Linked DNA regions of Homo sapiens: all the other regions are linked to region 1. Evidence: fine-mapped expression QTL. A gene starts in region 1. Each other region holds a variant in brackets. All regions are shown on one strand. Distances are from middle to middle.

The links. PIP is the estimated chance that this variant, and not a neighbour inherited with it, causes the effect.
Region 2: its variant is fine-mapped to the expression of SLC25A30 in monocytes (Fairfax 2014, PIP 0.95). The same link has a PIP of 0.9 or more in monocytes after LPS and monocytes after interferon gamma.
Region 3: its variant is fine-mapped to the expression of SLC25A30 in whole blood (TOPMed, PIP above 0.99).

Annotation. Positions count from the first base shown.
Region 1 is chr13:45,414,544-45,422,727 of GRCh38, forward strand. It overlaps SLC25A30 (solute carrier family 25 member 30), which reads right to left and starts at 3,830. Exons shown (of 10, transcript NM_001010875.4): 1 at 3,757-3,830. SLC25A30-AS1 (SLC25A30 antisense RNA 1) reads left to right here and starts at 3,619. Exons shown (of 2, transcript NR_047031.1): 1 at 3,619-4,195; 2 at 5,705-5,828. RefSeq lists enhancers at 3,185-3,234, 4,045-4,234, 8,112-8,184 and silencers at 3,465-3,794, 3,835-3,934.
Region 2 is chr13:45,391,938-45,400,121 of GRCh38, forward strand. SLC25A30 (solute carrier family 25 member 30) reads right to left here. Exons shown (of 10, transcript NM_001010875.4): 8 at 7,003-7,141; 9 at 5,321-5,401; 10 at 1,379-4,078. The coding sequence ends at 4,037. Among named protein-coding and RNA genes, the nearest start is that of SLC25A30-AS1, 22 kb to the right of the region's middle. The variant G/A (reference allele first, on the strand shown) is at 4,036.
Region 3 is chr13:45,436,484-45,444,667 of GRCh38, forward strand. It overlaps the pseudogene PPIAP25. Among named protein-coding and RNA genes, the nearest start is that of SLC25A30, 22 kb to the left of the region's middle. The variant T/A (reference allele first, on the strand shown) is at 3,490.

The sequences.
Region 1 (8,184 bases):
GAGGCGGAAGTTGCAGTGAGCCAAGATCTTGACACTGCATTCCAGCCTGGGCAACAAAAGCGAAACTTTGTCTCAAACACACACACACACATACACACACACACACACACACACACACACACACACACGAAAACGGTTCTAGTTAGGACTGGAATAAGTAAGTAGATGTCCACTAAGCTGTACTGGCCACAGCAAGCTGTGACAGGGCTATAAGTATCTTAGGCTGAAATCTCTGTTCAGTAAACTAACCCATTTCTTTGTTTTGGAGCTCTTTCTGAAGGGAAGTCTCGTGAAACACTTCCTTGAATTCCAAACACAGTTGTTTGGAAAAATCCCAACTGGATCTACAGAAGTCCCAAGGCTGACAAGCCAAGACAGTTAGAGAGATTAATGTGTCCTTAGCAGTCAATAGTGTCTGGGCAGCATCTCGGGGAAGGAATTACAACTTTGCAGAAATTCCAGTGTCGGGCAGTGGCTGTAGATCACTTCTGATTTGACAGTCCTCTTACAGCCATGTTCTCTAAGCCATGCTAAAACCCAGTAATTCCTTACTTCTCCTTGCTGCGTTATGAACATAATACTAACACTAGCAGTCATCCCTGAATACCTGCTGTTAGGCATTGCTATACATTTTCTTCACAGTCCTATGAAAGAGGTATCATTATCCACATCTCACAACTAAGCAAACAGCCTCAGAGAAGAAAAGTAACTTTCCCTGGTCAAAGCTACCAAATATTCAAACTAAGGTTTCTCTGAAGGATCACATGACCCTTCCTCTAGATAGTACTTTGCAGACACTATCTTCCAAGGGCTGTTAAAAAAATATTGGTGGGGGGCAGGGCAGGGAATTCTATACATTCAGAATAAATATAGAATTTTCCAGCAGAGGAAATAAAAAATTTTATTTTTAAAAATGTTAGCTGTTGGCCGGGTGTGGTGGCTCAAGCCTGTAATCCCAACACTTTGGAAGGTGGAGGAGGGTGGATCACTTGAGGTCAGGAGTTCGAGACCAGCCAGGCCAACATGGTGAAACCCGGTCTCTACTAAAAATACAAAAATTAGCTGGGCATGGTGGCAGATGCCTGTAATCCCAGTTACTCGGGACGCTGAGGCAGGAGAATAGCTTTGAACCCGGGAGGCAGAGGTTGCAGTGAGCCAAGATGGCGCCACTGCACTGTGGCCTGGGTGACAGAGCGAGACTCCATCACAAAAAAAAAAAAAAGAAAGAAAGCTGTTGGTGCCTGGCTGAATAATTTTTTTTTTTTTTTTTTTTTGAGACTGAGTCTCGCTCTTTCACCCAGGCTGGAGTGCGGTGGTGCTATCTCAGCTCACTGCAACCTCTGCCTCCCAGGTTCAAGCAATTCTCCTGCCTCATCCTCCTGAGTAACTGGGATTACAGGCACGTGCCACCACGTCCAGCTAATTTTTGTATTTTTGGTAGAGATGGGGTTTCACCATGTTGGTTAGGCTGGTCTCGAACTCCTGACCTTGTGATCTGCCTGCCTCCGACTCCCAAAGTGCTGGGATTATAGGCATGAACCACGGCGCCCGGTCCAAATTTTTTAAAGTTAAAAACAAAACAGGCCGGGCACGGTGGCTCATGCCTGTAATCCTAGCACTTTGGGAGGCCGAGGCGGGTGGATCACCTGACGTCAGGAGTTCGAGACCAGCCTGGCCAACACGGTGAAATCCTGTCTCTATTAAAAATACAAAAATTAGCCAGGCATAGTGGTGGGCGCCTGTAATTCTAGCTATTCGGGAGGCTGAGGCAAGAGAACTGCCTGAACCTGGGAAGCGGAGGTTGCAGTAAGCTGAGACCGCACCACTGCACCCCGGCCTGGGCAACAAAAGCAAAACTCCATCTCAAATAAATAAATAAATATATAAATAAATACAAAAAAAAGTGAAAAATACAAAGTAAAAAAACAACAACAAAAATGTTAGCTGGGCTAGTCACACATACCTGTAATCCCAGCTACTTGGGAGGCTGAGGCTGGAGAATAGCTTGAGGCCAGGGGTTCAAGACCAGCCTGGGCAACAGAATGAGACGACCACCTATACTAAAAAAATCCAAAACATTATCTAGGTATGGTGGTACGCGACTCTAGTCCCAGCTACTCCGCAGGCTGAGGTGGAAGGGGCACATAAGCCCAGGACTTCAAGGCTGCAGTGAGCTAAGACCATGACACTGCACTCTAGCAGCCTGGGTGACAGAGCAAGACCCTGTCCCAAATAATAAATAAAGGTTAAAAACAAGTTTTCTGAATGAAATTGTCTATACAAATTAAGAATTTCAAAGGATTCTCCCTACACTTAGGATATATGCTAAGTTACACATCCTGTCTACATTTTCTCTTACATGGTTGCTTAGTATTTATTTTCACCCACCTGACCTCATGTGTACAGCTGTAAAGGGAGGTAATTAAATATAATACTAGCTGTTCGTACTTTTGAACGCTTTCCAAGTTTCTCTTATTTATTTATTTAGAGGCGGAGTTTTGTTCTTATTGCCCAGGCTGGAGTACAATAGCATGATCTCGGCTCACTGCAACCTCCGTCTCCTGGATTCAAGCGATTCTCCTGTCTCAACCTCCCGAGTAGCTAGAATTAGACATCCGTCACCACGCCCGGCTAATTTTGTATTTTTAGTAGAGACGGAGTTTCTCCATGTTGGCCAGGCTGGTCTCGAACTCCTGACCTCAGGTGATCCGCCCGCCTCGGCCTCCCAAAGTGCTGGGATTACAGGCCTGAGCCACCGCTCCCAGCCGTTTCTCTTATTTAATTCTTGGTAAGTTCTTTCAGTTTTACTTCCTGTTCCCTTTTTAGTCTTAAGTCTTAAAACTGTAATTGCACAGCCTTTAATGTGCTCTCATACATTTATTGTTCCTTGCTGGACCGACTGCCCTTTCAATAATGCCCTTTCATGAACTTTTCCTATTTCCTATTCTTTTTAAAGGTGCAGAAGGAAAACTAAGCTCATCACAGACTTACAAAAAGCCGGGTTTAAAAGAAATCTTCGAAATTATCATCTCGTTTCACGTTAATTAACTGAGCCCGCGGTCACAAAGCTTCGCAACGGCAAAGCCAAAAGCAAGATTCATGCCTTTCAACTTTCTCACTACCCAAGTAGCACCGCAAGCCGAATCCGCAGGGCAGTGCCAACATTGTTTGCTACTCTTGCGCAGAACAAAAATGCTAATCACTGCAACTGCTTTACATGAAAGTGCACCTAGAAAGACTTCAAAACCCAGAGGTACATTAACTTTCCAGGCAAGTTCCTCCCAGCCTGTGTGCCACGAGCGATTCCGAATGTGGTGTGCCCTCTCCCACAGTGCGAAGCTCGCGGGCGCTCAGGCTGCCGTTTGAATGAACGCACGAGTGGGAGGGACGCACAAGCAGGGTTGCAAGCCCGGGGCTCGTTAGCAGACGCGGAGATGCCAGGACGGGCTTCGCACTCGGATCTGAATGACCCTGGAACAGGAATCACCCCACGCCAACAGCGATGGGGGCCCCGCGGCACCGGCCCGACCCAAGGAGGCAGCAGCCCGAGAAGCAGAGCCCTGTCCCCAGTCCCCGGAACCTCGCGCCCCGCCGAGCCCGGCCCGGCCTGCGAAGTGGAGAGCACAGGCAGCCCCGAGCACGCCCGGTTGCAAAGGAGGCTCCTCGGAAATCGCAGCCCAACCTTACCCCAGGCCCGGGTTCCAGGAGCCGCAGAGAAAGCGGGGCCGGCAGGAGGAGGCACGGGCCAGGACTTACCTGGCGGCAGCGGCCCCACACCTCCTCCAACCCGGACTCAGTTGTAACAAGAACCTGAGGCCGCTGGAGAAAAGGAAAAAATGCCGTCGCGGGCGGGGCAGACCCACGAGCCTGCACGCAGCCCCGCGCCGCCCCGCCCCGTCCGCGCAAACACGCGACCTCCTCAGCTCCCATTGGTTTCTGCCAGCACTAGCCACACCCCTGACAGCCCCAGATGGGGACACGGAGGGGCGGGGCCCGTCCCAAGTGCCCCTCAGGATCTTCCCCTGCCGCTGCCTGAGGGAGCTGCCCGGGACTCGGTGACACCTGATGTGGCCTCCGATATCGACTGGGAGGTGGAAGAGAAATTTGGGGAACGCATCGAGAACCGTGGAAAAGCAACCTTCGCAGGGGGCAACCTTCTCACGGTGCCCCCGTGAACCTTCACAGTTGGATGGAAGTAAACTTGCCCTTATTTTTTTATACCCCAGCTTTTAGCTTGAAAATATACAGATTAGCCGGGCATAGCGGCGGGCGCTATAATCCCAGCTACTTGGGTGGCTGAGGCAGAAGAATCGCTTGAACCTGGGAGGCGGAGATTGCAGTGAGCAGAGAGCGTACCACTGCACTCCAGCCTGGGCAACAAAGCGAGACTTCGTCTCAAAAAAAAAAAAAAAAAAAAAAAAAAAAAAAAAAAAAAAAAAAAGCCAGACCTGGTGGCGGGTGCCTGTAATCCCAGCCACTCGGGAGGCTGAAACAGGAGAATCGCTTGAACCCGGGAGGCGGAGGTTGCAGTGAGCCAAGATCGCGCCACTGCACTCCAGCCTGGGCGACAAAGTGATACTCCCTCTTAAAAAAAAAAAAAAAAAAAAAGAAAGAAAATGTCCAAACAGAACAAAAAATTAAAAGAACCGTACTATGAGTAGAAATCTTTACATATATATCTAATATACATATATGTAAATATTTATTTATATATTAATATATAACATTTTTAACGGTATGGCAGTGTTTGTGTTCAAGCATACCCAGGTATATTTTTGTTTTGTTTTGTTTTTAGACAGAGCCTCACTCTTGTTGCCCAGGCTGGAGTGCAATGGCACCATCTCAGCTCACTGCAACCTCCGCCTCCCAGGTTCAAGTGATTCTGCTGCCTCAGCCTCCCGAGTAGCTGGGATTACAGGTGCCCATCACCACGTCCGGCTAATTGTTGTATTTTTAGTAGAGATGGGGTTTCTCCATATTGGTGAGGCTGGTCTCGAACTCCCGACCTCAGGTGATCCGCCTGCCTCGGCCTCCCAAAGTGCTGCCATTACAGGTGTGAGCCACGGCACCCGGCTGTGAACTCATGATTTAAACATATAACTGGGGCCGGGCTCAGTGGCTTATGCCTGTAATCCCAGCATTTTGGGAGGCCGAGACGGGCAGATCACCTGAGGTCGGGAGTTCGAGACCAGCCTGACCAATATGGAGAAAACCCATCTCTACTAAAAGTACAAAAATTAGCCGGACGTGGTGATGGACACCTGTAATCCCAGCTACTCGGGAGGCTGAGGCAGGAAAATCAGTTGAAGCTGGGAGGTGGAGGTTGAGGTGAGCCGAGATCACGCCGCTGCACTCTAGCTGCTGCACTCTAGCTGCTGCACTCTAGCCTGGGTGACAGCGCGAGAGAAAGAAAAGGAAAGGAAAGGGAGGGGAGGCGAAGGGAAGGGGAAGGGGAAGAAAGGAAAGGGGAAAGGAGAAAGAGGGAGGAAGGAAGGGAGGAAGGAAAATGCATATGTATAAAACTTGCATCTGTTGATGCAAAGTGCTACTCCAGGAATCTTTACATCCCTTGGTTCATTCAAGACAAAGAAATGTTATTTCCATTTTACAGATGACAGAACAGAGGTTTCATGAGATAACTGCCCTGTTACAGAACCAGGGCCCAGGGCCATCTCTCTCTCATTTCCTTCTCTTGTGTCTCCAGCTCAGGCCCCAGGTTGAGCTTAAACAATCTCTTTTCTGTGCTCCAACTTGGACTCTAGGTGAGTACCTGGATTTTTGGCCACACAATGTTTTGAAATCAATAAAATTTGGACCCCTTTGAAGTATCCCCTGAATTCTGGCCATAAAAACAAATACAATCCCCAGCCTGTGGGGGAAAGTCATTGGAATGCTTGCCTTTCTAGGGCAGGGAAATAAGTACATGACCCTTTCTACCTCTCTCTCACCTCACCAAGTCCTTTCCAGACTCATGACTGTGTGGTACTACATACAAAGCACTGGATTCCTCCCTTTCCTGTAGAGCTTTTGGACACCCAAACTCTACCATTACCCTAAGCCCCACCAGCCCATGCTAATACTCAGATAATACTTAGAAATACACAGGAATGGCCAGCCTTCAAGTATGAAGATCCCTTTGTGGGTTTTTTTGTGCTTTTGTTTTGTTTTGTTTTTCAAGACAGGGTCTCGCTCTGTCACCCAGGCTGGAGTGCAGTGGCCCAGTCACAGCTCACTGCAGCCTCGAACTCCTATACTCAAGCAATCCTCCTGCCTCGGCCTCCCAAAGTGCTGGGAGTACAGGCATGAGCCACCATGCCTGGCCAAAGATCTTTTTGAAAGAAAACTGAATTTTTTAAAAATTTTGAGTCCCTATAAAATAGATGGTAGTATTTTCAGTGTCCATTATGAAAATGCATATGGAATTTGTGGGGCCCCTGCAGTAACCTTGGGTTCCTCCAAGGGTCTTGGCCCAGGGATTGGAAACTATTTCTCTAGGGAATAGTAACTTGGTTGCAGCAGCATAACCAGTTTAGAAACAAGAATAACAAAAAAAGGCCAGGCGTGGTGGCTCACGTCTATAATCCCAATACTTTGGGAGGCCGAAGCAGGTGGATCACCTGAGGTCAGGAGTACAAGACTAGCCTGGCCAACATGGCGAAACTCCATCTCCACTAAAAACACAAAAATTAGCCGGGCATGGTGCTGCCTGCCTATAGTTCCAGCTGCTTGGGAGGCTAAGGCAGGAGAATTGCTGGAACCTGGGAAGCAGAGGTTGCAGTGAGTTGAGATCGTGCTACTGCACTCCAGCCTGGGCAACAGAGCAAGACTCCATCTCCAAAAAAAAAAAAAAAAAAAAAGAATTAAAAAAAAGTGGTAAGTCCAGAAATATATCTACGAACTATTCAGTGCCAGTCCCTGTTGGAAGCAACTTCTTTTTCATCTATTCTTTGCCTTCAACTTTCCCCCTATTTGGCTCTTTGTGCATGTTTTTTATCTGACTACAGTTAACACACCCAGGTAGCAATATGGAAATGAAGACCTAGGTTCTACTCAATCCTGGCCACAGCTTTATTAGCTCTCTGGCCTTGAGTTAATTAAAGTCCTCAGTTGCAAAATGGAAACAATACCCTCCCTACAGAATGTTAAATGAGGCGACGTGTGCAAAAACATACTTTGTAAAATGTAAGTGCTGTAGAAATATCTTTGAATTCATCTGGCCATGGCACTCACCAGCTTAAAATTCTTCATTGGCTCCCCAGTGTCCTCAAGATTAAGGCCCCTGACCACGTGGTCCTTAGAGCCCTCCAGCCATAAGAATCCAGTTCCCTATCCTCCTCACCCATGCACTTGCCCCTCAATCCTACATTCTAAAGTCTGGCCATATAGGCACTTCTCAAGTAGCTGGGCTTTTATTGCCATTTAGGCCTTTTATTAGCAAACTGTTAGAACAGTAACATCCACACAGCCAAAAGCCCTCACTACACTCCCTTAGGTGGATGATGCCAATCTCTATGAGGAGCTGGGCAGCAGGAACCATTTTTTACCCACATCATGGTTTTCATCATCTTGGCAATTGTGTGTGCACTATATAGTGGCAATAAATAACAAATGCTTTGGAATCAACTACAATTTGATAAATGTTTGTTTAATTACATTAAACTACAGGAATGATGCAGATAATATGGACCTGCGTCTTGTCAAGAATGAGTCTCACAGGTTTTTCTGGATGGTTGGTGCTTGCAGAATGAAAGGGCTTAGTCAGACCTTTTAGGGGTAACATTTGGTGGTTGGCGAAAGGAGGAGGTTGTATCTGACTGAGACATCTGGTCACCTCCTCTCCTTGGCAAAATGCAGAAGCAATGAGCCATTGCTACTCCTAAGAAGAACACCTGGATAGGCCAGTGTTCCTAGCTGGTGTACTGGGAATGAGCCCATAAAATTCTTTATCATTATATTTTATTGCAGCGGTTCTCAATCTGAATCAGATTTTGCCCTCCAGGAGAAATTCACAATGTCTGGAGTTTTTCGGTTGCCTCAACTAGATGCTTGCTACTGGCAAGTTGGTAGGGACCTAGGTTGCTGCTAAACGTTCAACAATGCCCAGGAAGGTGGCAATAGTACTGAAGTTTTAGAAATCCTGTTTTATAGGAATGTTGCTTTGGGCATTTGTTTTTCTTGGTTACA
Region 2 (8,184 bases), 23 kb before region 1:
TTGAGAAACATATTTATACACTGTCTTATACTTCCCTCCTTTGCTACAGAATGAATCTACTTGTAACCTACCAAAAATTTACCCTGTCACATTTCCCCAGCTGCTGGTTTAAAAATAAATATCCTGGATTTAAAGCCAATTGTGTCTAACAGGTGCCACCATCCAAGTGAGGATTTCACTGTTCACAGGCATTTGAGACACACCAGCGGCCGGCGGTTCTCACTGCTCTTCATATGGAGGCAACCATATATGGGTAAGTCATTTAGTCTCTTAGGTAGGCGAACTGAGGCCAATCTCCCCACTTTTAGGGCTGTGAAACTGTTCTGTATGATACAATAATGGTGGATATGCGTCACTATACATTCGTCCAAATCCACAGAATGTACAACACCAAGAGTGAACCCTACTGTAAACTATGGACTCTGAGTGACAATGATGCATCAAATAGGTTCATCAGTTGTAATAAATGCACTGCTCTGGTGCAGAATGTTGATGATGGAGGAGACAGGGGTACATGGGAATCTCCGTACCTTCCATTCAATTTTGCTAAAACTACTCTAAAAAATAAAATTAAAGAAAAAAAAAAGCTCCCCTCTTTCCCCAGTTTTACGATTTATTTATGCTTTGTGAAATGGAGTCTCACTCTTGACTCCCAGGCTGGAGTGCAGTGATCTCAGCTCAATGCAACCTCCACCTCCCGGGTTCAAGAGATTCTCCTGCTTCAGCCTCCTGAGAGGCTGGGATTACAGGCGCATGGCACCATGCCCAGCTAATTTTTGTATTTTTAGTAGAGATGGGGTTTCACTATGTTGGCCAGGCCAGTCTCGAGCTCCTGAACTCAAGTGATCTACCGTACCCGGCCCCCAATGTTAGTTTTTAAATAAACGACTATGTTTAATTCACATGCTAACAGGCACCTAGAGAATACTTTCAAGTAAAAAGATTAATGAACCCACTTCGCATTGAGTTAGCTGGTTGTTTTCTGCCAACCAGGTGTCCCTGCCTGGTCCACAGTTGACCAAGGATCCCTGCATCTGCCTCTAGCAACACCCAACACTGTATGAAGGGCTGAGGGGGTCTGACAGTTCACGTCACTGACATCCTCTCACTGGTATTTCGAATGCCAAGCCAGCCCTCAAATCAAGTTCACTGGCCTCGACTGAGCTGCCAAGTATTTCATACATGGGGAGGGGGGTTGGGGGGGGGGAGGGTAGGGGGATCACACAGGTGCCAGGCAATGAGTAAGATTATCCCAGCAACTTCTCCATGCAGAGAGAAATGTCTGCAGCTGCAACACTATTTCTACTCCAGCCTTCTAGACTCCATGTAGTTTGCCTTTGTTTGAATGTTTCTATTTATCTGAAATAACCAGAAATCATTTTTATTATTATATATTACTCCAGTTTATTAAATAAATGAAACAAGGCTTATGCCACATATTCCAACAATGTTTAAATAAAGAGCTTGAAATATAAAGGCTTATGAAAACTTCATACTCTTTATATAATGCATACTATTTCTAGCACATGAATAAATATAAAGGACAGGAGCCACTTTTTATATTATGAATCCACAACATTAAGCATCAATGATTACACAAATCCATAAGCACACAAACAAAAAAACCCATTGGTTATAAAAACTAGAATTCCTTTTGGCATATTTAAGAAAACCCAAAGGTGGGGAGGTACTTATAGCCAGAACCCTGACAACGAGGGGACCAAGTCTCCCAATTCCTTAAGTTGTTTCTTGGTTAGAAGCTTCAACAATTGCATTAACTCTTTCAAAAAAACAGAAAAAGCAGGTTAAGATCCTGTTCAATAAGGCACTTAATAAGTCTACACTGAAGAAATACTATGCTTTTATCTTAAATCGTGCTTAAGTTTTACCATGAGGTTTGAATTTCTTTCCACCTTGGTAGGAACATGTATGTAATTTGAATAAACTGGTAATAATACTGTCTGACATTCGCTCTTTACATGGTCATTAAAATGAATTTGCTTCTACTGTTTTAAAAATTGTATGCATATTTGAAAAAGTAAAATTTTTCTACATTAAAAAAAGAGCATTTCAAGAAAAGCAATCTTTAAACTCAAAGAACTCAAAAGTGAAAGCCTCTCTATAGAAAGTCTTTATAAAATCAATGGAATGTTTTGGAAAGAAGAAAAAATCCTAAGGTGTAGTTTAGAACAAGCAGCAAGGCCTGAATGAGCTCTGGGGTCCTCTGCTGCCCTCTAGGGTTGCCCAGGGAGAGCTGGACTTTCATCTGAGTCTCAGCAATTAACAGGTAACCCTACCCCACTGCACCCCGCCCCCGCCCCCACCTTCTGTTATCCTCTCTTTTTGATGACTTTGTCTTAGCTCTCACTTTTGGAAATAATATTCAAAGGGACCATTCATGCATAAGGAAGGCAAGGGAAAAATGCCTGCGAGGAAAAATTATCTCATCCTCCAAAAAAACCTGCAGTCCTTCTATTCAGTCTCAACAAAGAGACTGGCCAGACTGGGAATTTGGCCGCACTACTGTGGAAGGAGAATGCCCTGGAGCCCCAGCTAACATGTATTTAATGTTGTTCTCAAAGGGGGAACTGAAGAGACCCAAATAAATATGTTCCCTGTCCTGTGGCTGCCTCCCAGAAGTGGAAGTTCTTGGGGTTCTCACAGTCATCTTTTATTTTGAAAAGACTAAGATGAAGACAAGAAGGAAGAGGGCTCTTTCTCTGAAGCAGGTTAGAGTAAAGAATAAGAAAATAGAAAAAGAAAAAAAGAAGAGGGAGAATGACTTATTGTGTCTACAGAAGGAAAGAAAAAGGGAAAATATTACATACCACCTATCAGAAACTAGCTAAATAGATGCACTAAAGAAATCATTTTTAAAATTTCAAGCAGGTATTTTCCATCCAAACTAAACAGAAAGTCCAAGACAGGCACAACATAAACTAAAGTAAAAACTGGAAACCTGGAAAAATCAACTCTTTGATTCACTACCAACATTTTGCTAAGGAAAATGTACTAAAGCCTGAACTTATACAGTGTTCTTTCTTCAACAAGACCTTAACAAAGGGCTTCATTCACAATTACCATGAGAAGCCCATGAGAACATGCCCCTCTTCTACATAGACTGTTTAGAGCTGTTCCACAGCATGATGTAAACACATTTACCTTTCCAGTCAAGTAGCAGCAGCTACTATTTGTTCTTCATTTGACCCTCTACATCAATAGACGTTATTATCCCCATTTTACTCATTGAGAAATACATATGCTTTGCTAAAAATCATAAAGCTAATTACTAACATGACCTAAGACAGAACCTAAGCTGCTTGAAAACACCCCCCACCAATACAGACCTTGCAACCTTCAAAGCCAACACATAACACCACCACGAATTTAGAGATTATTACTTTGTAACAATTTCTCACAAATGTCAAGTCTTCAAAGCTTAAAATCACTTATTATAAGTGGAAGATCCTGCCAAAATAGGAAATGATAAAGCAGTGTGATATTCCTAGGATCCATTTCCTGCACCGTTTATACCTGGGGTTGAACAGTCCAGGTCTCCATACATGAAATTTCTTCAGTTGACAAGGAGCAAAATCTCCCAGAAATTCAGAAACCATAACACCTTCTCGGAGGCTCCATTCCATGGTTCCAGTGAGCTTTTCTAGAGCAGTCTGATTCTCAGTCATGAGCTGAGATGCATCAGGAGCTACTCTCCCTGAATAAAACAATACATCGCTCCTGATTTTCTTGCAAGTTTTCTTTAGCAAGAAACATGCATTTCACATATTATCTTTGATGTTGAAGGGCACTTCAGTGGTAAAGACTAGTGTTTGGATGTTAGTTTATGCCATTAAACGTTTGATGAAGAGCATCCAATGCCAACACACAGCAATCTCAACTAACCCAGTCTTCATCTGTTGCTCACATCCCAGAATCTGTGATGAGCCAAGCAGTGAGAAGCAGAGTGAAACACAGGAAGCTTTGCTGTTTCAGAAGTTACCATTTTCAGAAAGATGTCTCATGCAGCCTTGGCTT[G/A]TCACAAATCCAATTTCTTCAACTGCTCGTATGTCACAAAGAACTGTGGTTATGGGTTAAGGATGACACAGAAAATGCCATCTTCACAACTCCAGTGCATAACAACAGACTTACAAATGGCACACTTAATAACAAATAGGTACAGGCAGACCCACGCTATGGACACGATTAAATAAAAGGGGTTCCACCCTTAACCACATCAAACTATCTTCCAAGGTCAGCTTGGAGCAGAAAGATCACAGCTGAGATATGTAAATCCCCTGGTATCAGCCTCTTCTGAGATGGCATCTACGCTGATAAGCTTTTGTGGCTTTGCTGTGGTGGAAAAACTTTCCAGCACTGTAAGCTTTTGAGAGAGAGAGAGAGAGAGAGAGTTAGCAAGCCCTGGGAAGCTCTCCTCAAAGGCTTCCACTATGCATCCTTCCTTGGGAGGCAGGAGCTGATGAAGAGCAACAAGAGGACAGCAAAAGCCAGCATTCCTGCTTCATCACTCTGCCCTTCAGTGTCTAATTAACTGCCTCACGGGCGCGGTGGCTCACGCCTGTAATCCCAGCACTTTGGGAGGCCAAGGGGCAGGTCACTTGAGGTCAGGAGTTTGAGACCAGCCTGGCTGACATGGTGAAACCCCATCTCTACTAAAAACACAAAAATTAGCCAGGCGTGGTTTTATGTGCCTGTAATCCCAACTACTCAGGAGGCCAAGGCAAGAGAATTGCTAGAACCCAGGAGGCGGAGGTGGCAGTGACCCGAGATCACGCCACTGTACTCCAGCCTGGGCGACAGAGTAAAGACTCAGTCTCAAAAACAAAAAAAAAGTTAACTGCCTTTCCTTTCCTGCCTCCCACTGTGGCACATAGGAAGCGTGCTGGCCTGCCAAACAATTCCGGAGCTAATTCCTGTTTATCTTCAGGCACTTTCTAAGATAAGCATTCTAAGACACTGTTGCCAACCACATCCTTCCCAAGGTGGCTAGGGCTATAAAGCCAATCCTCCTCTCTCTCTCTCTGAAATCGTAAATACCCTCAGCTTCTAGAACAGAGTCTAACTAAACCTTTTTAGTAGTATCACTACTTTTGAATAATACCACCATCAAAGCAAGATTCAGTGTCTAGCACGGAGACTTTACACTTCCTAAAAAAGAAACTAAGTAGTGACTTCTTAGCATCAGAGGAACTCAAAATAATCAGAACCTACTTCTAAATTATAATTAATAACATGAGAGTTTATACAAATAGTATTCTTTAGCTGTATCTTTTTTCAGATCTATTGCAACAGAAAAGGATACAATGATATTCCAAGGACCAAGTCTCAACCAATTTGGCCAAAAGCCTTTATAGAGAGCAAAAAACCCTTCATTCTTCCATGTCTGTTAAAAGAAGAAAAAAAAGTTAACTTCCAACTTTCTAATTATGCCAAATGCATTAATAATTAGTGGCCAGGCCAGGCGCGGTGGCTCACGCCTTTAATCCCAGCACTTTGGGAGGCCGAGGCGGGTGGATCACCAGGTCAGGAGATCAAGACCATCCTGGCTAATGCAGTGAAACCCTGTCTCTACTAAAAATACAAAAAAAAAATTAGCCGGGCATGGTGGCAGGCGCCTGTAGTCCCAGCTACTCGGGAGGCTGAGGCAGGAGAATGGCATGAACCCGGGAGGCGGAGCTTGCAGTGAGCCAAGATCACGCCACTGCACTCCAGCCTGGGCGACAAAGCGAGACTCCATCTCAAAAAATAATAATAATAATTAGTGGCCAGACTGATTTATTTTTCTTAAAAATAAAATCCTGTTTGGAAGGACTGCCTAAGAAATCTTTGCTCTTTAGAGGCTTGTGTGGGTGGAAGACTAAGGCTCCATGCCCAACAACCCCACACGAAGGATTGAATGAACTCCACACAAAGGAGATAAACACTGTTGAGTGAGGAAAAAATTAGATTTAATTCCAATTACGGTCTGTTGCTTCCGTGCCATGTGGGCTCCTGAACAGGTCACAAATAAAGAAGCAATAGTGGTAGAGATATCATTCAGAGTACCACTATTTCCCAAGATGTCAGGTGGATGAATACGATAAGTGTCTTTGCTTCATTAAGGCAACACCTGAAGAATAAAATGTGCTAGTGTCATGTTGGAAAACAGGAACCACAAAAGTGGCCCCTGTAGCCATAAAAAAGAAATCACGTTCTTTGCAGCAACATGGATGGAGCTGGAGGCCATTATCCTGAGCAAACTAACGCAGAAACAGAAGATCAAAAACCACATGTTCTCATTTTTAAGTGGGAGCTAAACAATGGGTACACACGGACATAAAGATAGAAGTAACAGACACTGGGGACTCCTAAAGGGGAGAGGCTAGAGTTGAAAAATTATCTGTCTGGTGTAATGCTCACTATTTGGGTAATGGGTACATTAGAAGCCCAATCTCCACCACTACGCATGTGCCTATGTAACACACCTGCACATGTACCCCCTGAATCTAAAATACATTAAAACTTGAAAATAAATAAATAAATATCACCTTAAAAAAAAAAAAAAAGTGACTCCTAATCCTACTACTGGCAATCTAGTGGCAGAGACAGGTGAAACCTTTCACCCACTCATAAAACAGGAGGCCCAATTATTTAAACTGAGAATTAAAGTAAGATTGATGTGTTCCTTTAACAGAGATGTCTGAATGAGGGATATTCATACTAGTTTGACCCAACAGGAAGAAAGTACATTTTGGAAGGAGACCCAGTTCTTTTATAATCACAGGAAATATTTCCTCACCTTTCACAGCAGATGGAGGTATAAAGAAAACAACATTGTATTTATAAAAGCTAAGCACAGTGTGGCAAAAATGGTCTCACACATGTACATCTCTGGGCTTTAAAGCATCATTCATCTTAGTTTTAGTAGCTTTCATAATTTAGTTACTTCTTAGATCAAAAAAATATATAATTCACAACCCTGCAGAGACAGACATCTGCTCTTACCTGTAACAAGCAATCCAGGGTTCCTGTGTAGCCAGAACATCTGCCATCTCGAAGCACTCTCTGATTCATCATACGTGTCCTCACAACATCAACAGGGTTTGAGGCCAGGGCCCCTGCCAGACCACAGGTGAAGCTTGAGCTATAAAGACACCATTGGAAAAAAAAAAAAAAGTTAACCATCACTGAGCTACAACCACCATCAAAGGCAGAAAACAGCTTCTGCCCAAACTATGGGGTTTTCTTGTTTGTGGTTTTCGTGTTTTGTTTTGTTTTGTTTTGTTTTTGAGACGAAGTCTTGCTCTGTTGCCCAGGCTGGAGTGCAATGGTGTGACCTTGGCTCACTGCAACCTCTGCCTCCCAAGTTCAAGCGATTCTCCTGCCTCAGCCTCCCAAGTAGCTGGGATTTCAGGTGTACTCTACCACATCCAGCTAATTTTTTTTGTATTTTTATTAGAGACGGGGTTTCGCCATGTTGGCCAGGCTGATCTCAGACTCTTGACCTCAAGTGATCTGCCCACCTCGGCCTCCCAAAGTGCTGGGATTACAGGCATGAGCCACCATGCCCAGCCCCAAAACTATGTTGAACTAACATGTATCAACATGAAACATGTCAAGAAGAGCCATATCTAGAGAGCTTGATAAACTGCTTACATATTAGCACCGATTATACTAGCTGATAAATCCCAGCGACAGCTAAGAATACCTGACATTCTAGAATGTCAAAGGATCATAAAACATAAAGGAAATCCTCCAAGGATGATCTTTTCCATCTATTTACCTGTAAGTGGACATCAGAGTAATTCTAGCCATATCATAATTATATCATTTCCTAGATATCAAAGAAAAAGATCTCCTTACTATAATGCCCCGCAAAGGTCTTAGGTTCTGCTATATTTTCAGTCCCACAAGACTACCACAGACCATACTTTATATCAATTAACCCAGAGCAAAGTTTCTCAACCTCAGCACTAGCTATATCCCTGGCCTGGCCCCACTAGATGTCAGTAGTATTCCCCCCTGGTTGTGACAATCAGAACAGTCTCCACACATTGCCCACCAATGGATTATGTATGATTATATATATATATATATATACACACACACACACACACACACACACACACACATATGAATGATAATATATATGTATGATATATCCATACAATGTGATAATCTGCAGCT
Region 3 (8,184 bases), 22 kb after region 1:
ACACAAACGGTTCCCAGTTTTTCATCTGCGCTGCCAAGACTGAGTGGTTGGATGGCACGCATGTGGTCTTTGGCAAGGAGAAAGAAGGCCTGATTATTGTGAAGGCCGTGGAGCGCTTTGGGTCCAGGAATGGCAAGACCAGCAAGGAGATCACAATTGCCGACTGTGTTTTATCTTAACCACCAGACCATTCCTTCTATAGCTCAGGAGAGTGCCCCTCCGCACCATTTGCTCACAGTATCCTAGAATCTTTGTGCTCTCGCTCAGTTCCCTTTGGGTTCCATGTTTTCCCTGTTCCCTTCCATGCCTAGCTGGATTGCAGAGTTAAGTTTATGATTATGAAATAAAAACTAACAACCAAAAAAAAAAAAAAAGGCTAGTTTGATACAGCTTAGCAGATGGCTTAGAGCCAGGGTCCAGGACTAGCCATTGTTTCATTACCTCCTCCAAAGCCCTGGGGAACCCACCTCACCCACAGTCCCCTCTGAGTGTGATCAACAGTGGTTACACATGATCCATCACCCAGTCACACAGATAGGCCAAGGGAGACATGGATAGAGGTCTGAGGTGGCCTTGAGAACTCTGCCCTGTAGTGGCCCCTCTGCTGGATGGTGAAGGCTGTCCCACAGGAACTCTTGGGACATTTGACATAAGGCACGAGTGAAAATCCGCTGATACAGACAAAAGCAGTAGAGTCAGAGGCAAAATATCTGAGTCCCTGTCATGGTGGAGACCCAGAGCAGGAATCCATAGTTGCCCAGTTCTGAAGAGTCACTTGCCAGGTATTGTGACGGTGCCACCAGAGTTGCTATCAGAGCAATGGGGCTACAAGTACATCCCAGACTACGTCCTATATGGCCTAACCACATGGCCGGAGACAACTTCCTGTGTCCTTTATTTCCCTATGTAGCCTTATAATTGGCCTTCATTCATGGAAATAACCTGAGGATGTGCCTGCTCCTTGAAACCCTGAAAAATCTAATTTACATCTAAATGCCACAAAAGGAAGCCACTGAAAGGATTCTGGTCACATCTTCCTTCCTTAATGAAGGATTGGTGGGGACTCTCCAGAAGCCATTGGTAGAGCAGCTTATTTCTAATCCTCCTCTGTTGTGCCACCCTCCACTATGGAAGCTGAAAATGTTAAATACTTCTTTCCCGGCTGGGCGCGGTGGCTCACACCTGTAATCCCAGCACTTTGGGAGGCCGAGGCGGGAGGATCACGAGGTCAGGAGATGGAGACCATCCTGGACAACATGGTGAAACCCCATCTCTACTAAAAATACAAAAATTAGCTGGGCGTGGTGGCATGTGCCTGTAATCCCAGTTACTCGGGAGGCTGAGGCAGGAGAATCACTTGAACTAGGGAGTCAGAGGTTGCGGTGAGCCAAGATCGCACCACTGCACTCCAGCCTGGCAACAGAGTGAGACTCCATCTCAAAAACAAAACAAAACAAAACAAAACAAAACAAAACAAAAAAACTTCTTTCCCAGCCTTTCTTGCAGCTAAGCATGGCCAAGTGACAAGTTCTGTCCAACGAGACAAACATGAAACTCTTGGGCAGCATAAGGAGGAGTGTTTGAGAAAGGCTTTACTTCTGTACAAAGAGAACAGGCCCAGGAGCAGTGGTCACTGGCACTGCCCCTTCCCCATTCTCGTGCCTTGAATACAAACATGGTACGTGCAGCTGTGGCCACAGTCTCACTCTCACAAAGTGACAAGCATGTTAACAAAAGGCCCACATGCTAAGAAAGGCAGGACCGAAAGAGAGAAAGAGTCAGGGTCTTATTGACATTGTCAGGCAGCTAAACCAACTTTCTACCCCCAGGCTTCTTGTTTCTTGAGAAAAAGACCACTTTAACTTGGTATCACTGCTTATGGTTTTCCTAACTGATAACACTGCATATGTAAAACTAATCACAAAATGTGCATCATAGACTGGGTGCAGTGGCTCACACCTGTAATCCCAGCACTTTGGGAGGCCGAGGCAGGTGGATCACTTCAGGCAAGAAGTTCGAGACCAGCCTGATCATCATGGTGAAACCCCGTCTCTACTAAAAATACAAAAATTAGCCAGGCATGGTGGTGGGTGCCTGTAATCCCAGCTACTCAGCTACTCAAAAAAAAAAAAAAAAAAAAAAAACACACACAAACAAAAAAAAACACGGGAGACACCTCCTGAGATGGAAGCCACTGCACTCCAGCCTGGGCTACATAAAAAAAAAAATGTATCATAGATTTATAACTTATTTAAGTAAACTTTTAAGCAAATCACACGTTAGTGATTCCACAGCAGGATTCAGTCACTCCGACTATTTCTTGTACAACCTCAAGTGGTTTTCTTTGGTGTTTTTTTTTGTTTTTTGAGACGGAGTCTCGCTCTGTCGCCCAGGCTGGAGTGCAGTGGTGCAATCTCAGCTCACTGCAACCTCTGCCTCCCAAGTTCAAGCGATTCTCCTGCCTCAGCCTCCTGAATAGCTGGGATTACAGGCATGCGCCACCACGCCCAGCTAGTTTTTGTATTTTTAGTAGAGACAGGGTTTCGCCGTTTTGGCCAGGATGGTATCAAACTCCTGACCTCAGATTATCCACCCACCTCAGCCTCCCAAAGGGCTGGGATTACAGGCATGAGCCACCACGCCCAACCACAAGTTTTAAAACCACTTTGGGTTTTAAGGTGAGTCCTGTGAGGGCCTCTGCATATGCCAGTGTCCAGGCTCTGCAGACATGCCGGAAAGAGAATGCTTTCTGTTTGACTGTGCCTCCTCTTACACAGACACTACTCATGTGCATTGTTGTGGATGGCTGCATGCAGTAAGAGTATAAAGACCTCACTCAAATACACAATTAAGCACACTTTATATTGCTCATGTGAAAGGGAGCTACTATAGAATCAAGGCAGCCCTGCATGAAATTGTTAGGGGATGATTTGCGACAATACGGACGGACCTAAAGGACATTATGCTAGGTGAAATGAGTCAGTCACAGAAGCTTACATGAGGACTTTAAAATAATCAAACTTAGAGAAGCAGAAAATACAATGGAGGTTGCCAGAGGATGGAGGAAATGGGGAGTTTTTCAATGGGTATGAAGCTACAGTTATATAAGATGATTAAGATCTAGACATCTGCTGTATAACATAGTGCCTATTGTTAACAATATACCATGTTGTACACTTAAAAATGTGTTAAGAGGGTAGATTTCATGTTAAGTGTTCTTCCTCGCATACACACACACAAAAAGGCAGACAAAGGGGCACAACGAAACTTTTGGAGATGATGAACTTATTTGTTACCTTGATTGTGGCAATGATATCATAGGTATATGTGCATTATAACCAAAGTCATCAAATTTTATACATTTAAATATGTGCAATTTTTTGTATATCATTTATACTTCAATAAAGCTATCAAAAAATTAAAGCATTGTAAGTTAAAGAAAAAGAAAAGAAAAGGCTGGGCATGGTGACTCACACTGTAAAACTGTAA[T/A]CCTAGCACCTTGGGGGTTCAAGGCGGGTGGATTGTTTGAGCCCAGGAGTCGGAGACCAGCCTGGGCAACATGGTGAAACCCTGTCTCTACAAAAAAAAAAAAAAAAACATACAAAAATTAGCTGGGCATGGTGGCACACACCCTGTGGTCTCAGCTACTCAGGAGACTGAGGTAGGAGGATCACTTGAGGCCAGGAGGTTGAGGCTACAGTGAGCTGAGATCACACCACTGTACTCCCCCTGAAAAAAAAAAAAGGAAGAAAGACAGGAAGGAAGGAAGGACGGAAGAAGGAAAGAAGGAAGGAAGGAAGGAAGGATGGAAGGAACCCTGTACAGAATCTAATATGGACAACATACATCATGTAAAAAAAATTAGGGGATGGTTGTTAGAGAAATACATAGCCACACATATATTAAATGTCTTCCCAAAATGCTCAATGTATTTATGACCTAAAGAGCTGATACTTAGCTAACCCACATAACAGGAGCTCTAAATAGAACAGACACTCAGCCAGTGCCGGTTAACTAACAAATTCCTCTGCAGAACGGCAGCTCAAGAAGCAGATGCATTTCACCCTCGTGCTTATGTTGGCACTGATAACAATGTCCTGCTGGGTTTCTCTCCTCATCATGTCCTTCCCCACAGGTCAAGGCCAGTTCTCAGTTAATGGTTTGAGTCACAAGGACATGCAGTCCTCTTAGAGTGGACAAATGCCAAACTTGCTCTATCAACACCACAGAAGGATTTTTCAATGGCTAGAGGTCTCTATATGACCAGGAACTCCTAGCCTTAATATAGACTTTCCAATAGCCTAGGAAAAATTCTACAACCAGAGATGCAAGTACTCACATTACCACCATCACCCTTTCACCTACTTACCTAAAAAGGGATAACTAGACCTTGGCTGGGGCTTATTGATATAGGCCACAGAGTACCCTCTGTACCTTGACAGTCTATTTCCCAGATGTAATGCAATGTCCACATAAATAAACAGAATAACTCTGTCCCCAAATATGTTTCCTTTAATCAAAGTTCACTGAAAAACAAAAACTAAGGATGATTTAACAAAATAGTTTGTATGTGTTCATTGTCCTCTTTCCATTTATACTAAAAAGATAAGAAGGCTGAGTGCAGTGGCTCACGCTTGTAATCCCAGCACTTTGTGGGGGCTAAGGCAGGTGGATCACCAGAGGTCAGAAGTTTGAGACCAGCCTGGTCAACATGGTGAAACCCTGTCTCTACTAAAAATACAAAAATTAGCCGGGTGTGGTGGTGGGCACCTGTAGTCCCAGCTACTCTGGAGGCTGAGGCAGAAGAATCTCTTGAACCCAGGAGGCAGAGGTTGCAGTGAGCCGAGATTGCGCCATCGCACTCCAGCCTGGGCAACAAAAGTGAAACTCTCTCTCAAAAAAAAAAAAAAAGAAAAAGAAAAGAAAAGAAAAGGAAAAAAGAAAAGAAACTTGATAGAATGGTCAGATGGCTTTTTCAGTTGTTACTTTCAACAACTTTCAGTTGTTCAGTTTTTCAGTTGTTACTCTATCATACACATCATAGCATGATATGAGTGCTAAATAAATATTAGGCAAGTTATCATCAGTAAAGCCAATCTGGAAATTTACAAGATTCAGCTGAAAATTGTTTCTTGTCTCGGTTTCTATGAGAATACCAGGGGAACACTACCAGGGCTTGTCCAGGATGAATGTCTCCAACTTTACACCTTATTACTTGCTCTCATGCACTAGTGCTTCACCTTAAAATGAATCATAACAGCAAGTTATCCAGCAAGAACACGACAGGAGGTGATCTGTCTGGCTGTGGTGCTTCCACAGCCAGCCACAGGAGGGGTGTAAAAAGATTCTCTTGCCTAGGACAATGGCATTTCTGATTGCTAATTTTGTCTGACTGTGGTTTACAAATTCAACTTCCTTTGAAGATACGCATTCACTTAATTCTCTGGCCCAGCAAACCAGAACAGAATTTCTAGCTACCAATGTGAATCCTGAATATTTGTTTCCTTTTGGGTTTAGTAAAGTAGAAAATGAAACAATCACAAGAGGAAATGTGCCTAGAAAAAAAACCTGATTAAATCTGTGGAGAGTGGTTGGTAAAAATGGAAACATTTCACATTTCACCAAAAATCTCACATGTTGCTGTGGAAAATAAATGTATTTTTTACTTAAATGCATGCATTTAACAATCACCGATTGATTGCCATGCTGGGTACAAAAGGTGGGGAAATGCCTTTGCATTTAGAGATTTACAGTCTGATGGAAGAGGAAAAAAAAATCCAAAATTATATAATGGCCTGGAAGGGTGCTTAGAAGTCTTCTTGGGAGAGGCCGGGTGCAGTGGCTCACGCCTGTAATCCCAGCACTTTGGGAGGCTGAGGCGAGTGGATCACGAGGTCAGTAGTTCAAGACCAGCCTGGCCAGGATGGTGAAACTCTGTTTCTACTAAAAATACAAAAAAAATTAGCCGGGCCTGGTGGCGGGCACCTGTAATCCCAGCTACTCGGGAGGCTGAGGCAGGAGAATCGCTTGAACCCAGGAGGTGGAGGTTGCAGTGAGCCGATATCACACCATTGCATTCCAGCCTGGGCAACAGAGCAAGAAAAAAGAAGTCTTCCTGGGAGAGATGACACTTAAAAAAAAAAAAATAGGGCAAGGCGTGGTGGCTCATACCTGTAATCCCAGCACTTTGGGAGGCCAAGGCGGGTAGATCACCTGAGGTTAAGAGTTTGAGACCAGCCTGGCCAATGTGGTAAAACCCCATCTCTACTAAAAATAAAAAAATTAGCTGGGCATGGTGGCGTGTACCTGTAGTCCAGCTACTTGGGAGGCTGGGGCAGGAGAATCGCTTGAACCCAGGAGGCAGAGGTTGCAGTGAGCCAAGATTGTGCCACTGCACTCCAGCCTGGCGACAGAGCGAGACTCCATCTCAAAAAAAAAAAAAAAAATAGAGATGGGTCCTCACTATATTTGCCAGGATGGTCTCAAACTCCTGGCCCCAAGCAATCCTCCCACCTCGACTTCCCAAAGTGCTGGCATTACAGGTGTAAGCCACCATGCTTGGTCAAGATGACACTTGAGTTGACCAAGTCTTGAAGCATTAATGTAGGTTTCCCAGTGCAAAAGCTAAATTACAATAGTGGGAATGGGGAGAATAGATTCAAGAGAGCTTAAGGAGGTAAAATCCATGGAATTTGACTGATCTGCTAGGAAGGTGGAGGAGAGGTAATTGAGGCAAACATCTGGGTTCCTGGCTTGTGGCAAAAGGTGTCTGGTTGTATGTCTCACAGAGCACAGACTGAGGGAACAGGGGCTGTTTAGAAGTCAAGGTGATGGTTCTGTTTGAGACATGTTGGTCTAAGGTGTCCAAGAGTATTTATGTGTAAGAGTATAGGAGTCAATGTGCTATGTGCTGGGTCTGAGCTCAAGAAATATGTATGAGCTAGAAACAAATGTAGAGTCATTGAAGCTACACCAGCAGTAGCTAAATCTATGGCTCTGGATGACGGCTCCCAGGGGCAGTGAGATGAGCATTAGGTAGGGAGCCATATTAGGAGGTGCCAACATGGGGGCATGAGCCAGACAGCTGGGAGAGCAGGGCCTCCAAAGCCCAGGAGGGAGTGGTCAACACATCACAAGCCAAAAGGACTGCTACGGACTGAATGTTTGTGTCCCCGGCTCCCCAAATTCATATGTTGAATTCCTGATCCCTAATGTAATAGTATTAGGAGGTGGGACCTTTGGGAGGTGCTTGCTTTGGGAGGTGCTATGGTTTGAATGTATGCATTCTCCTGAAATTCTTAAGTAGGAACCCAATATCCAATGTAGTATTATTATGAGGTGGGGTCTTTGGGGATGTGATTAAGTCATGAGTACTCTGCCCTCATGAATGGGATTCATGCTCTTATAAAAGAAGTTAAAAGGAGTATCCTAATTCTTTTTGCCCTTCCATCTTTTCCACCATGTGAGGACACAGTGTTTGTCCCCTCTGGATATGAGGCAAAAAGGCACCATCTTGGAAGCAGAGAGCAGCCCTCACCAGACACAAAACCTGCCAGTGCCTTGATCTTGGACTCCCCAGTCTCCAGGACTGTGAGAAATAAATTTCTGTCATTTGTACATTACCCAGGTTGTGGTATTCTGTTATAGCAGCAGGGACAGAAAAAGGAGGTAATTAGATCCTGGGGATGAGGCCCTTATGATGAGATTAGTGTCCTCATAAGAAGAGACAGGGCCAGGCACAGTGGCTCACACCTGTAATCTCAGCACTTTGGGAGGCTGAGGCAGGTGGATCACCTGAGGTCAGGAGTTTGAGACCAGCCTGGCCAACATGGTAAAAACCCATCTCTATTAAAAATACAAAAATCAGCCGGGTGTGGTGGCAAGCATCTGTAATCCCAGCTACTTGGGAGGCTGAGGCAGGAGAATCAATTGAACCCAGGAGGCGGAGGTTACAGTGAGCCAAGATCGCGCCACTGTACTCCAGCCTGGGCAACAGAGTGAGACTCCGCCAAAAAAAAAAAAAAAAAAAAAAAGAGAGACAGGAGAGAGCTTGCTTCTTCTCTCTACTCTCTGCCAGATGAGAATACAAGGAGAAAGCAGCTATCTGTGAACCAGGAAAAGGGCCTTCACCAAGAACCAGTCTTGGCATAAGCAGAAATAGTAGACGCTGGTGATAAAAGGGTG